3 linked regions of the Homo sapiens genome follow. The protein of the gene in region 2 purifies or fractionates together with the protein of the main gene of each other region. This does not show direct contact. Each region holds a gene or a part of one and is shown on either strand. Other genes may lie near its edges. The genes, in order: SUCLA2, S100A16 and OXCT1.

Region 1 (3,652 bases), on a different chromosome or scaffold from region 2:
AAACAATTTCATTTCAAGCAAGTAGCTGAAATTTCAAATATATTAATAATTCTACTTTTCACTTTTTTTTTTTTTTATTTTGACACAGTCTCACTCTGTCACCCAGGCTGGAGTGCAGTGGTGCAATCTCGGCTCACTGCAAGCTCCGTCTCCTGAGTTCATGCCATTCTCCTGCCTCAGCCTCCCGAGTAGCTGGGACTACAGGCACCCCCCACCACGCCCAGCTAATTTTTTGTTTTTTTTGTATTTTTAGTAGAGACAGTGTTTCACTGTGTTAGCCAGGATGGTCTCGATCTCCTGACCTCATGATCCGCCCGCCTCAGCCTCCCAAAGTGTCGGGATTACAGGTGTCAGCCACCACGCCCAGCCCTACTTTTCACTTTCTTAACCTAAGTTCTTCTTCTCTTGTTGGTATTTTTTTAAATTTGCCTTAAAATAGGCTTAAATGTAAAAGGCTTAAATGAGAAAGCAGCCACATGATATAATAAAGATCTGTAGCAGGGCATCGTGGAATGCACCTGTAATCCCAGCTACTTGGAAGGCTGAGGCAGGGGAATCACTTGAACTTGGGAGGCGGAGGTTGCAGTGAGCAGAGATGGCACCACTGCACTCCAGCCTGGGCGACAGAGCAAGACTCTCAAAAAAATTAAAAATAAAAATAAAAAATAAAGATGTGTATTTAAAAAAAATCACACGAAGTAAAATTAGAATTCTTAAGCACATTTTATAACTATTTCAGGTAAAGTCAAAAATTGACACAGGAAAATGTCCCACTCATTTGCAGAAGACTGCAGTTGTTTTACCAGAAAAATAAAAGTAGTAAATGTGATTTATTAAATAGACTTGACTCAGACCAAAAGTACCCAACAGGCACTAGGCAAATGTTAAGAAATCTAATTTAACAAAGGTATCACACAGAGAGTAGGTACTTGAATTCACTTTCTGGCAAGCCAACCCCATAGAAGTTACCTCCCGGAATCAGGATGTGAAAGGTACTAAAGACCAGTAGAACCTATGATACATCTCCTAAAAACAAGTCAGTAATAGAAGTAATTGTTTTCTGTTTTGTTTTAGTTTTGCTTTGCTTATTCTTTTTTTTTCTCTTCAACTTTTAAGTTGAGGTGTACATGTCCAGGATGTGTAGGTTTGTTACATAGGTAAACATGTGCCATGGTGGTGTGCTGTACAGATCATCCCATCACCCAGGTATTAAGCCCAACATTCACTAGCTATTCTTTCTGATGCTCTCCCTCCCTCCACCCCCACCCCGACAGGCCCCAGTGTGTGTTGATCCCCACCTTGTGTCCATGTGTTCTCATCATTCAGTTCCCACTTTTAAGTGAAAACACACGGTGTTTGGTTTTCTGCTCCTGCATTAGTTTGCTGAGGATAATGGCTTCCAACTCCATCCATATCCCTGCAAAGGACATAATCTCATTCCTTTTTTATGGCTGCAGAGTATTCCATGGTGTATATGTACCACATTTTCTTATCCAGTCTATCATCGGTGGATGTTTAGGTTGATTCCATGTCTTTGCTATTGTGAACAGTGCTGCAGTGAACATACCGATGCATGTATCTTTATAACAGAATGATTTATATTCTTTTGGGTATATACCCAGTAGTGGGATTGCTGGGTCAAATAGTATTTCTGCCTCTAGGTCTTTGAGGAATTGCCACACTGTCTTCCACAATGGTTGAACTAATTTACACTCCCGTCAACACTGTAAAGGCATTCCTTTTTCTGCAAAACCTCACCAGCATCTGTTGTTTTTTGACTTTTTAATGATAGCCACCTGAGTGGCATGAGATGGTATCTCATTGTGGTTTTGATTTGCTTTTCTCTAAAGATCAGTGATGAGCTTTTTAATCACATGTGTGTTGGCCATATGTATAGTTTTTTTTTTTTTTTTTTTGAAACGGATTCTTACTCTGTCGCCCAGACGGGAGTGCAGTAGCACAACCTCGGCTCACTGCAACCTCCACCTCCCAGATTCAAGCCATTCTCCTGCCTCAGCCTCCCAAGTAGCTGGGATTACAGGAACTCACCACCATGCCCAACTAATTTTTTTATTTTTAGTAGAGACAGGGTTTCACCTTGTTGGCCATGCTGGTCTCAAACTCCTCACCTCAGGTAATTCGTCCACCTCGGCCTCCCAAAGTGCTGGGATTACAGGCGTGAGCCACCACACCCAGCCTGTGTCTTCTTTTGAGAAGTGTCTGTTCATGTACTTTGCCCCCTTTTTAATGGGGTTGTTTGCTTTTTTTCTTGAAAATTTGTTTTAAGTTTCTCATAAACTTTGGATATTAGACCTTTGTCGGAAGGATAGATTGCAAAAATCTACTCCCATTCTGCAGGTTGTGTGTTCACTATGATGATAGTTTCCTTTGCTGTGCAGAAGCTCTTTAGCTTAATTAGATCCCATTTGTCAATTTTTGCTTTTGTTGCAATTGCTTTTGGCGTTTTCATCATGAATCTTTGCCCGCGCCTATGTCCTGAATGAATGGTATTACCTAGATTTCCTTCTAGAGTTTTTATAGTTTTGAGTTTTACATTTAAGTCTTTAATCCATCTTGAGTTAACTTTTGTATATGGTGTAGGGAAGGGGTTCAGTTTCAATTTTCTGCATGGCTAGCCTGTTCTCCCAGCACCATTTATTAAATAGGAAATCCTTTCCCCATTTTAACAAAAGCAATTTCTAATGATTAGTTAATTCCCATGCATGGGACATTAACTCAATCACAAGTGCTCTTTGTAGTTTAAATAGGTGACTAATTTTTGTTGTTCAACAGAGATCTGTCCACAGGGATTCCCAAAAACATGGCTATACCCCAAAAAGTAACACCAACCAACTCTACATTGGTCTAATGTGATAATATCAAAGAATTTATAATGTCTTCGGTCAAACAGTTTTACTGGTACTACAGTATTTTTAACCTGAATTATAACCACGTATTATTAGTAAGCAAGTATTAAAATAAAAACATTTTATCCTCAACAAGACCTAAATAGTTGTCAGGAAATTCAAGTTCATAAGATGAACTCAAATTTGATCCTTTTCCCAAATGCCTTAAACATATCTTTAATAATACATATTCAGTATCCTACCTTTACTACAATAAAGATGAATTACTATGGATAGAACTCCTATCTCAATTCATCCAGGTATTTATACCTTGTTTCTGGCTACTGTAACAAAAAGTAAAAACATAACTAACAAAATGACAGATGCCGATATATAATGTCAATGAAAAGAAAAATAAAATGTAGTGAAAATAAGTGAATGTGTAAAAATATAATTTATGTAAATTTTGGGTAATATATGAGGTTACTGTCATGGGATTTTTAAAATAACTTACAAACTAAATTCTATCACATAGAATATCACTTAAGAATAAAACAATGCTTCTTAATTTTATATTCTGAGTGGATTTTTACTACCATCTAGTGTTATATCTTTAGAAATACTTCCTTATAAAAATTAAAAGTTGCAAAAGACATATCATTCAAACATTAATAGATTTAATTGTAAATAAGAAAAATCACAATACAGAAAGTTGTTATTTTTAAAAAAGTTGTTCTACATAAGAAAATTATTTTCATGACTCTTAAAATTTTTGTTACTCTAAATTCTACACAATTAATGTTCTA
Region 2 (3,752 bases):
CACAGTCCTTCCAGAAATGGGCACGGTTTTCAGAATCACCTGGAACACTGGTCATGAACCTGAGCCACCTCCAACCCAAGGGCAGCACAGCAGACAGACCACAGGTTGAACAATGGTCTTCCTCTTCAACTGTAAATGTTAAAGTGTTTGTATGAAAGTCTTGCAGCGGTATAGACAGGGAACCACGCAGTTACACACTTAAATAAAAGAATATGGAAAAGCGTGTGGCTTCCTGCCATCCTGGTACTCTGCTCCATCCTCCCAGCCAAGGACCAGAGGGTTTGGGCAGGCGGAGGAGGGAAGACAAGGGCAGGATTTCCCTTCAGAGAAGCCGCAGCCTGACTCTTCCTCTCAACTCTCCTTCCTTCTTGCTTCCTGGCCTGTTCCCTCCTGGTCCCACCCTTCCTTCAGAAGAGGCTTCATGAAAGAAAAAGCTTAAAAGGTGGTCAAGGACGTGCAATACCCGTTATCAGGGCTGGAAGGAGGTGGAATATTTATAGAACGTGTACCTTGAGCAAGGCACTGGACCAGGCAATGTGGGCTGGAGAGATGCAGAGATTAAAAGCAGGGGGTGGTGTATATCCAGGATTGAAAAAACTGTCCTAAAGTCTGAGTCCCGCCGCTTGGTTCAGAAAATACATTGGCCATGTGTAAGAAAAACTATGCTTGTCTCAAGGAACAAGACAGGACCCAGAAAGACACCGTGGCCTCACCAGTTAGTGGGCCCCAGCCAGTGCTAGCTGAGTGGTGATGACAGACACGTCTGTGGGAGTCAGGGAGGATGGCACCCAGTGCAGGGGTCAAGGCAGGCTTCCTTCGGAGGCGTGGCTTGGGCGGGGCGAGAGTGATTGGCAGGCTGGCTGGAGAGGGCAGGGCAGCCGGCATGGGAGTAGGAATGGCCACAAGTGGCCAACGGAAAGCAGGTGGCAGGACAGGAGGCTGTGGTGGGGCCTGACCGAGCAGCCTTTCCTTCCAAATCTGACTGTGGCTTGCTCAGGCCCCTATGGTGGCTGTGACCCTGTTTTGTCCATCTCCTTTCACCAGGACCCGCCGGGTGAGGGTGACTGGAGCACATTCCTGGGCTTGGGGGTGGGAAGGGAGTCTGATTTGCCTGGGGTTGATGTGGGGGGGTTTTGGGCATGGGCCGTGACTCACAGAGTAGATCCAGATCCGCCTGCTCCCCTCATATCCTGTTATTCAGAAGGCTGTATCCGCTTAGAAAGTGTCTTTTGTCCTGGGGTGAGAGGGTGACGCATGTGCCCTCTGGCAGTCTGCTGCTGTGTCCAGAGTCCGACTCCAGCTGGGCTGTAACTGGGCTTGGCCCCCGCCTTAGGTAACGATGTGTGGGTGGGGGTGTTCTTGGGTCCTGCTGTGTATTTAGGGATGGGAATAAGGGAGGAGAGGCTAGCAGGGTGTGGCGGGGTGTGTTGGGAGAGCTGCACAAAATCTGATCCAATTGATCTGGACCTTGTCCTTTCCCATAAGGGGCAGCCAGGTTCTGAGACCCGGGACTCACTGTCCTGGAGCCCGGCAAGGGATTGGGGAAGGCCTACATCTTCCTTTCTGCTTTGTTGCCTGGGGCTGGGGTCTCAGCCAGTCCTGGGAGTGGGAGGCAGTAGCCTCTGCCCCTAACCTCCATGGCTCATCCCAGCTGTCCCAGCCATGCTTGGCCCCGGGAGAGGTGGGCCAGCTGTGGAGCAGGGTGGGAGAACAGGTGGACTCTTCTCTTCCCATGAGAGCCTCTTGCCCCGTAGGGCTCTGACACTAGGGATCTTGCTCCCTAGGGCTGGAACCTGGTGCCTGGGGCTGGGGCAGGGCCTGGAGAACCTGTTGAGGCGGTTGAGCTGGGGAGCACCTGGATTAGAGGAGCCGCATAGTTCTCATTCCAGGGCTCACTCTCCCCCACCCACTCTGTTCCCCTTTTCCTGCCACCTTCTTCTCCAGGGACCAGAAACAAGGCAGGAGGAGGGACCCAGGGCCTAGGGTGGGTGTGGAGGAGGAGGAGGTATGGCCTGTGGGTGTCTCTTCTCATCTCCCCTCCTCCTGGTGTCCAGGCCCCGCCAGCAGGCGAAGCAGGGAGATGTCAGACTGCTACACGGAGCTGGAGAAGGCAGTCATTGTCCTGGTGGAAAACTTCTACAAATATGTGTCTAAGTACAGCCTGGTCAAGAACAAGATCAGCAAGAGCAGCTTCCGCGAGATGCTCCAGAAAGAGCTGAACCACATGCTGTCGGTAAGGCCTCTCACCCAAGGGCCTTGCCTCCCTCTCCCCTTCCCTCCCCTGCAAGCCTCTGGCCTCTGAGGGTGTCTTTCCCTGCTGAGGCCTCTATCCTTCCAGTGTCCCCGCTAACTCCAGGGTCTTCTACACCCCCAGGCCTCTGTCTTCTCAGGATGCTTAGGCCTAGCCAGTGAGGGCTATATTTGCATTTCCCAAGGGAAGCAGCTGTGCAGGCCAGATCCTGGGTCTCTGCCTAGGGTCCTGCCTGGAGTCTCTCTGGGGCTTCCACCATCAGCATTGCTGACCCTGCTTCCTCCCCAGGACACAGGGAACCGGAAGGCTGCGGATAAGCTCATCCAGAACCTGGATGCCAATCATGATGGGCGCATCAGCTTCGATGAGTACTGGACCTTGATAGGCGGCATCACCGGCCCCATCGCCAAACTCATCCATGAGCAGGAGCAGCAGAGCAGCAGCTAGAGACCCCTTTGGCCACACCTTCCAGGCACTGGCCTGATGCCCCGCCCTGGTGCTCTCCCCAGGCTCCCTCCTCAGCCTCCTGCCCACCCAGGGCCCTTTACTCTCTTCTCCCTCCAGACCTTCCTCTGACCCTTGCTGAACTGGGGTCCCTTTGTGAGTGTCTCAGTCTAGAGGTACCTCCCTCCCTGGGGGGTCTCAGCTCCTGGAGTCGCAGGCCCTTGGGGCCCCTCTGTGAGATCTCAATGCTGTCTGGGGACCCTAAGAGTTTTCTCACCTGTTCAGTCTCATCTAACCTTCCAATGTCTGATGTTCCTGCCAAATTCCTGCCTGATTCTGGGTCCGTCCTGACCTCCAAAGGTCAGCTTGGTGCTTGAGGTCTCCCTGCTCTTGGTGGCAGTGGTAGCAGCAACAGCAGCAGCAGCAGCAGCAGCAGCAGCAGAGACCTCTCCACTTTCCCTTAGCCCCTCTGCTGGGTAGAGAGGCACTTTCAGGGACTTCCCTCCAGCTGCCTCTTCATCTGGGAATGAGCTAAGCAAGGCTGAGCCTCCTCCTGTTGCTTGAAATAATGATGATATAAAGGCTGGATTTGGAGTTTGTATCCCCTGGTCCCTCTGGGATGCTCATTAAAACCTTCCCACTCCTTGGAAACGTTTTATGCTTTGGTGGTCTTAGCCCTTGGGCCCTGTGATAAGAGAGAATCTCACAGAAGAACCTCAAAGGCAGAGCAAGAAAGGAGCCAGAACTCCTAAATTCCAACAGGCACTGTCAGCTGTGGGCCAGCAGCTCCCTCCATCCTCCTCCATAAAGGGCCAAAGGCCTTAGGTCACCATCTCTGGGCCCTTTTAGCCCAGACTCAGACTCAAATTCAACTTCCAGGCACACTGTAAGTCCCGTTTAGTCCTCACTGCAATTCCACGAGAGAGGGACCATGACCCTTAGTCTTTTTTTTTTTTTTTTTTTGGAGCGGAGAGTTTAATAGGCAAGAAGGGGCAAGACGGAAGGGAGAAGGAAGAAGCTCCCCTGTACAGAGACAGAGGGACGGAGGCCCCAAAGC
Region 3 (3,652 bases), on a different chromosome or scaffold from region 2:
ATATCAAAGACAAAAATCTGTAATAACATCTGCTTGGTCAATTGAAGAGCTTTTTAAATATAGATACAAATGCTATTTGTAACAGTTGTAAATTATTCTTGTTAGCTTCCTAGGATCGTGATACAACTGCAATTGCTGAAATAATTTACTTAAAGACAGATAATTAATTCCAATATGGAAACTTCAAAACTGAAATATTAATTAATAACTAGAAATACTCAATTTAATTAGAATCAAAGTCATTCACCAAGAATAAGGTCATATAGCAATATGAAATGCCTCCACATTAGTCTGTTATTTTAGAATTAATTTAAAAGACAATTTTTCTATCAACATAAAACAGTTCAAAAGAACAAGGATCAAGAAAAACTAAACTCAACATTGTTGTGGTGAAAGAATTAGCTTTCTGGTGACACGCACGCACACAAACATACACACCTTTAAGTTGTGAGTACTCAGCTTAACAGATACAGTGTCCAAAACAAACGTTTGCTTCCATGAACTGACTTATACAAGGATAGTAGTATTGATTTTTGTTTCCTAAACTAATCACTGAAATCTGGAAATCTGTGAGGTTAAGTAGCCCTTCTTATGCTGTTCTACTACTATATGCCTTCACTAGGCTCCTCCTACAGTGCAAGAATACCAGGGCTTACAGAAGACATTTTACTTATTGTGCAATGCTCACAAATAGCTGAAAAAGGCAAGGACATGGTGGATAAAAGCTATCTTCTTTGATAAACAGAAAAATCAAACAAAAATTCCAAGGAAAGGTCAGAAAATATGTCGGCATCCAAGTTGAACTACTGGGTAGAGAGGCATCTGGGGATGAGTGAGGAGACAGGGAAAGTGGGGCCGAAGACCCCTTGCCACTGCACTCTATGTCCTCCCCTTGAAAACTCTGTATGCTCCAGTATTTTCTATTCGAGGTGGAGGTGGGGAATGCAGAGCAGCTAAGCACTACTGCTACCTCTTCAACTGGTTGGAACTTTCAGCCATTAGGGCTCATTCACATCTTTCCATATTCAGTTTTAGCCTTCAAAGAAGTTCTTGACTTTAAAAATGTGTTTATACATTAATCCAGTATCCTGAGGATAGACATGAAGATTTATTATTCATGAAAACACTAATCACAAAATTTATTATAATAATGAATTGAAAACAACTTTAATGTCAGCAATAGGGAAATGGTCAAATAAACATGGTGTAGCCATGTGATTAATCAATATTATGCACTCATAATATTTAATGATCTCATAATTTCATGTTTCATAAAATGCAAGATTTTGTATAAGTAAATAAAAATTTATAGAAATGCACTTTGGGATAGACAATTATTTATATACCTACAGAAAATAAAAGGAAACACACGGAAATGCTAAGAATTGTTATCTCTGGGTAATAGTACAAGTGGTTTTTGTTTTCCTTTTACTTTTATAATCAAAACTGAAACCCACAATGTTATTTTTTCAGAAGATGTGATAAACACTAAGTTTCTAAAACTAGAAAATCATAAGTGGAGCATGTGATAAATCTCACAATTAGTTTGACATGTACCAAAGAGGGCATGTTAAAAAGAAAATAGAGAGTCTAAGAAAAACTGAAGTTTCTAAACCCTAAAAGCAGTCACATTATGAACTAAACTAAGCAAACCCTTCTTGCCTGCACATTTGAAAATAATAATGTGAATTATTTTTCATGCCTAATATTGCTCCAAAAGGTCAGGCCCTCAAATCTCTTGCTATGATTGTGACAGCAGCTTCCTTTGGTCTTCCTGCCTTACCCTCTAGCAGGGGCAAAGAACATAATAAAAAAGGAAGAAAAAAAAGTATTGCTCACTTAAACTGAAAATGCTGATGGAAACCCGCCACTATTTTCTTTTGGTTCCATCAAAGAATGTTTCAACAGAAAACACCAAATCAAGACAAAGCTTCATTACCAAGGACAATTATATCATAACTCTCAGAACTAACAGAATGAATATGTCCTGGTAAAACAACTCCGATAAGCAAGAATCTAGCTAAACATAAACAATTCCATGTTTTGTCATCCTAATATAAATGGCTTTCAGACTGTAGAAAATGCATGTGCAGCATTTGTCAAAATAACAACACTCAACAGTATTGAAAACGTCTATACAAAAATCAAAGCTTTCTCAGAGTTGGTTAGCAGAGTTAATAGCTAAGAAAGAAAATATTTGAAGTACAAACCAAAAGAAGAAAACATGTTTTCAGACAATCTATGAAAAGAGTTTAAAAAAAAAAATGAAGAGGCAGAACTATCTTAATGCTAGCTATTGAAGGGACTGACTTCAGTGCCAGTTTCGTGTGATCTTGAGAACAATAAGGAAGGAGCAATGGGAGGATTAAAAAGTCTAGTGAGATCAGGCGATTTAAACATAAGCGTTAATGGAAAACCTGATGAGAAAATGATGACTAAAATGAGCTGGTTAGGACAAACATAAAAATAAAAGATCCCTTACTAAAGATGGCAGAGTTTTCCTCCTGAAGTTAGAAATGGGTAATAAAGAATAAAGGACAAAGGAAAAGCCTCAGGGCAAAGCAATGGGCAGATGTAAGTATCCTCAGGCAAGATCAAGATGGAAGAGAGGTAGCTAAGAACAACCCGGACTTCTCCATGGCACTATGAATAGTTCTCATGCCCCACCACTTGCTACAACCAGAAATCCAGACGTTTGAGGCTTCTCTAATTGGTACTTGTCTTTAGTCATTAACAGAAAAATAGACACTAGGAAATGTTGTTATTGATCTGAACTTTGTTTTAAAAGATTGCTTTCTCTGCACTGCACTCTTCCTACTTTATAACTGAAAACTTATTTTAAAGCTTAGAGAAGGATAAGAATTCATCCCTTGGTGACAATGTGTTTGTGATTGCTTGGCAAACATTATATCTCAGGTAAGAGAAAAGAGGAGCTGCAAGGCAATAACGTCCTCATTTTTTATTTTATTTTAGTGACAACCTCAATCTGTTATAGACACAAAAATGGACCCAACCCTAAATGGTGTTAGCGAAAAATTATACACACCTGCAAAACTCTGTGTACGATACAAAGTAAGGGCTGTTGAGGGGGAGGAAGAGGGAGACTCACATTCCAGGCTTTCTTCCTGACTCATTTTAAGTTTCAAAAAAGTTTAGGAGGAAACTTCTTTTGCCAAAAAGAAAAGAAAAAAAACAGACAACAAGCAATAATGTCTAGAATCATGAGAAACATTAACTCCAAAAGAGAGGGAAAAAAAAAAAAAGCAGCTGTGGAAGTCTAGAAAAATAAAAGGGGGAGACAATAAGCAATAAGAGAAGTTACAAGTTAAATGCAGAGGTGCTCTGGATGTTAAAATGAAGTAAAATGAGTAAAATGAAGAGGAAATGTGAGTAAGACCTCACGTTCAATAGATAAATAGGATAACTATAGTTAAAAATCTATTGTACCTCTCAAAGTTGCTAGAAGAGAATAATTTGAATGTGCTTAGCATAAAGAATAGATAAATATGGTAATGAATATCCCAATTACCCTGATTTTACCTTTATGTTATACGAATATGTCAAATTATCACAGGTACCCTGAAAACATACAGGTCTATCATGTATCAAAAAAGAAATAATTTTTTAAACAAGAGGCAATGTAGAGAAAGAG

What was found.
Region 1: the proteins of S100A16 (region 2) and SUCLA2 fractionate together in Homo sapiens (co-fractionation; one large-scale study listed by BioGRID). This does not show direct contact.
Region 3: the proteins of S100A16 (region 2) and OXCT1 fractionate together in Homo sapiens (co-fractionation; one large-scale study listed by BioGRID). This does not show direct contact.

Annotation. Positions count from the first base shown.
Region 1 is NC_000013.11:47,984,133-47,987,784, forward strand, and holds part of SUCLA2 (succinate--CoA ligase [ADP-forming] subunit beta, mitochondrial precursor), read right to left. Parts: intron 1-3,652. UniProt on the Homo sapiens protein: ATP-specific succinyl-CoA synthetase functions in the citric acid cycle (TCA), coupling the hydrolysis of succinyl-CoA to the synthesis of ATP and thus represents the only step of substrate-level phosphorylation in the TCA.
Region 2 is NC_000001.11:153,606,480-153,610,231, reverse strand, and holds the end of S100A16 (protein S100-A16), read left to right. Parts: intron 1-876; exon of another isoform or gene 877-1,333; intron 1,334-2,054; 5' UTR 2,055-2,080; coding exon 2,081-2,233; intron 2,234-2,513; exon of another isoform or gene 2,514-2,539; coding exon 2,540-2,698; 3' UTR 2,699-3,346; downstream 3,347-3,752. UniProt on the Homo sapiens protein: Calcium-binding protein. Binds one calcium ion per monomer. Can promote differentiation of adipocytes (in vitro). Overexpression in preadipocytes increases their proliferation, enhances adipogenesis and reduces insulin-stimulated glucose uptake.
Region 3 is NC_000005.10:41,807,832-41,811,483, forward strand, and holds part of OXCT1 (succinyl-CoA:3-ketoacid coenzyme A transferase 1, mitochondrial isoform 3 precursor), read right to left. Parts: intron 1-3,652. UniProt on the Homo sapiens protein: Key enzyme for ketone body catabolism.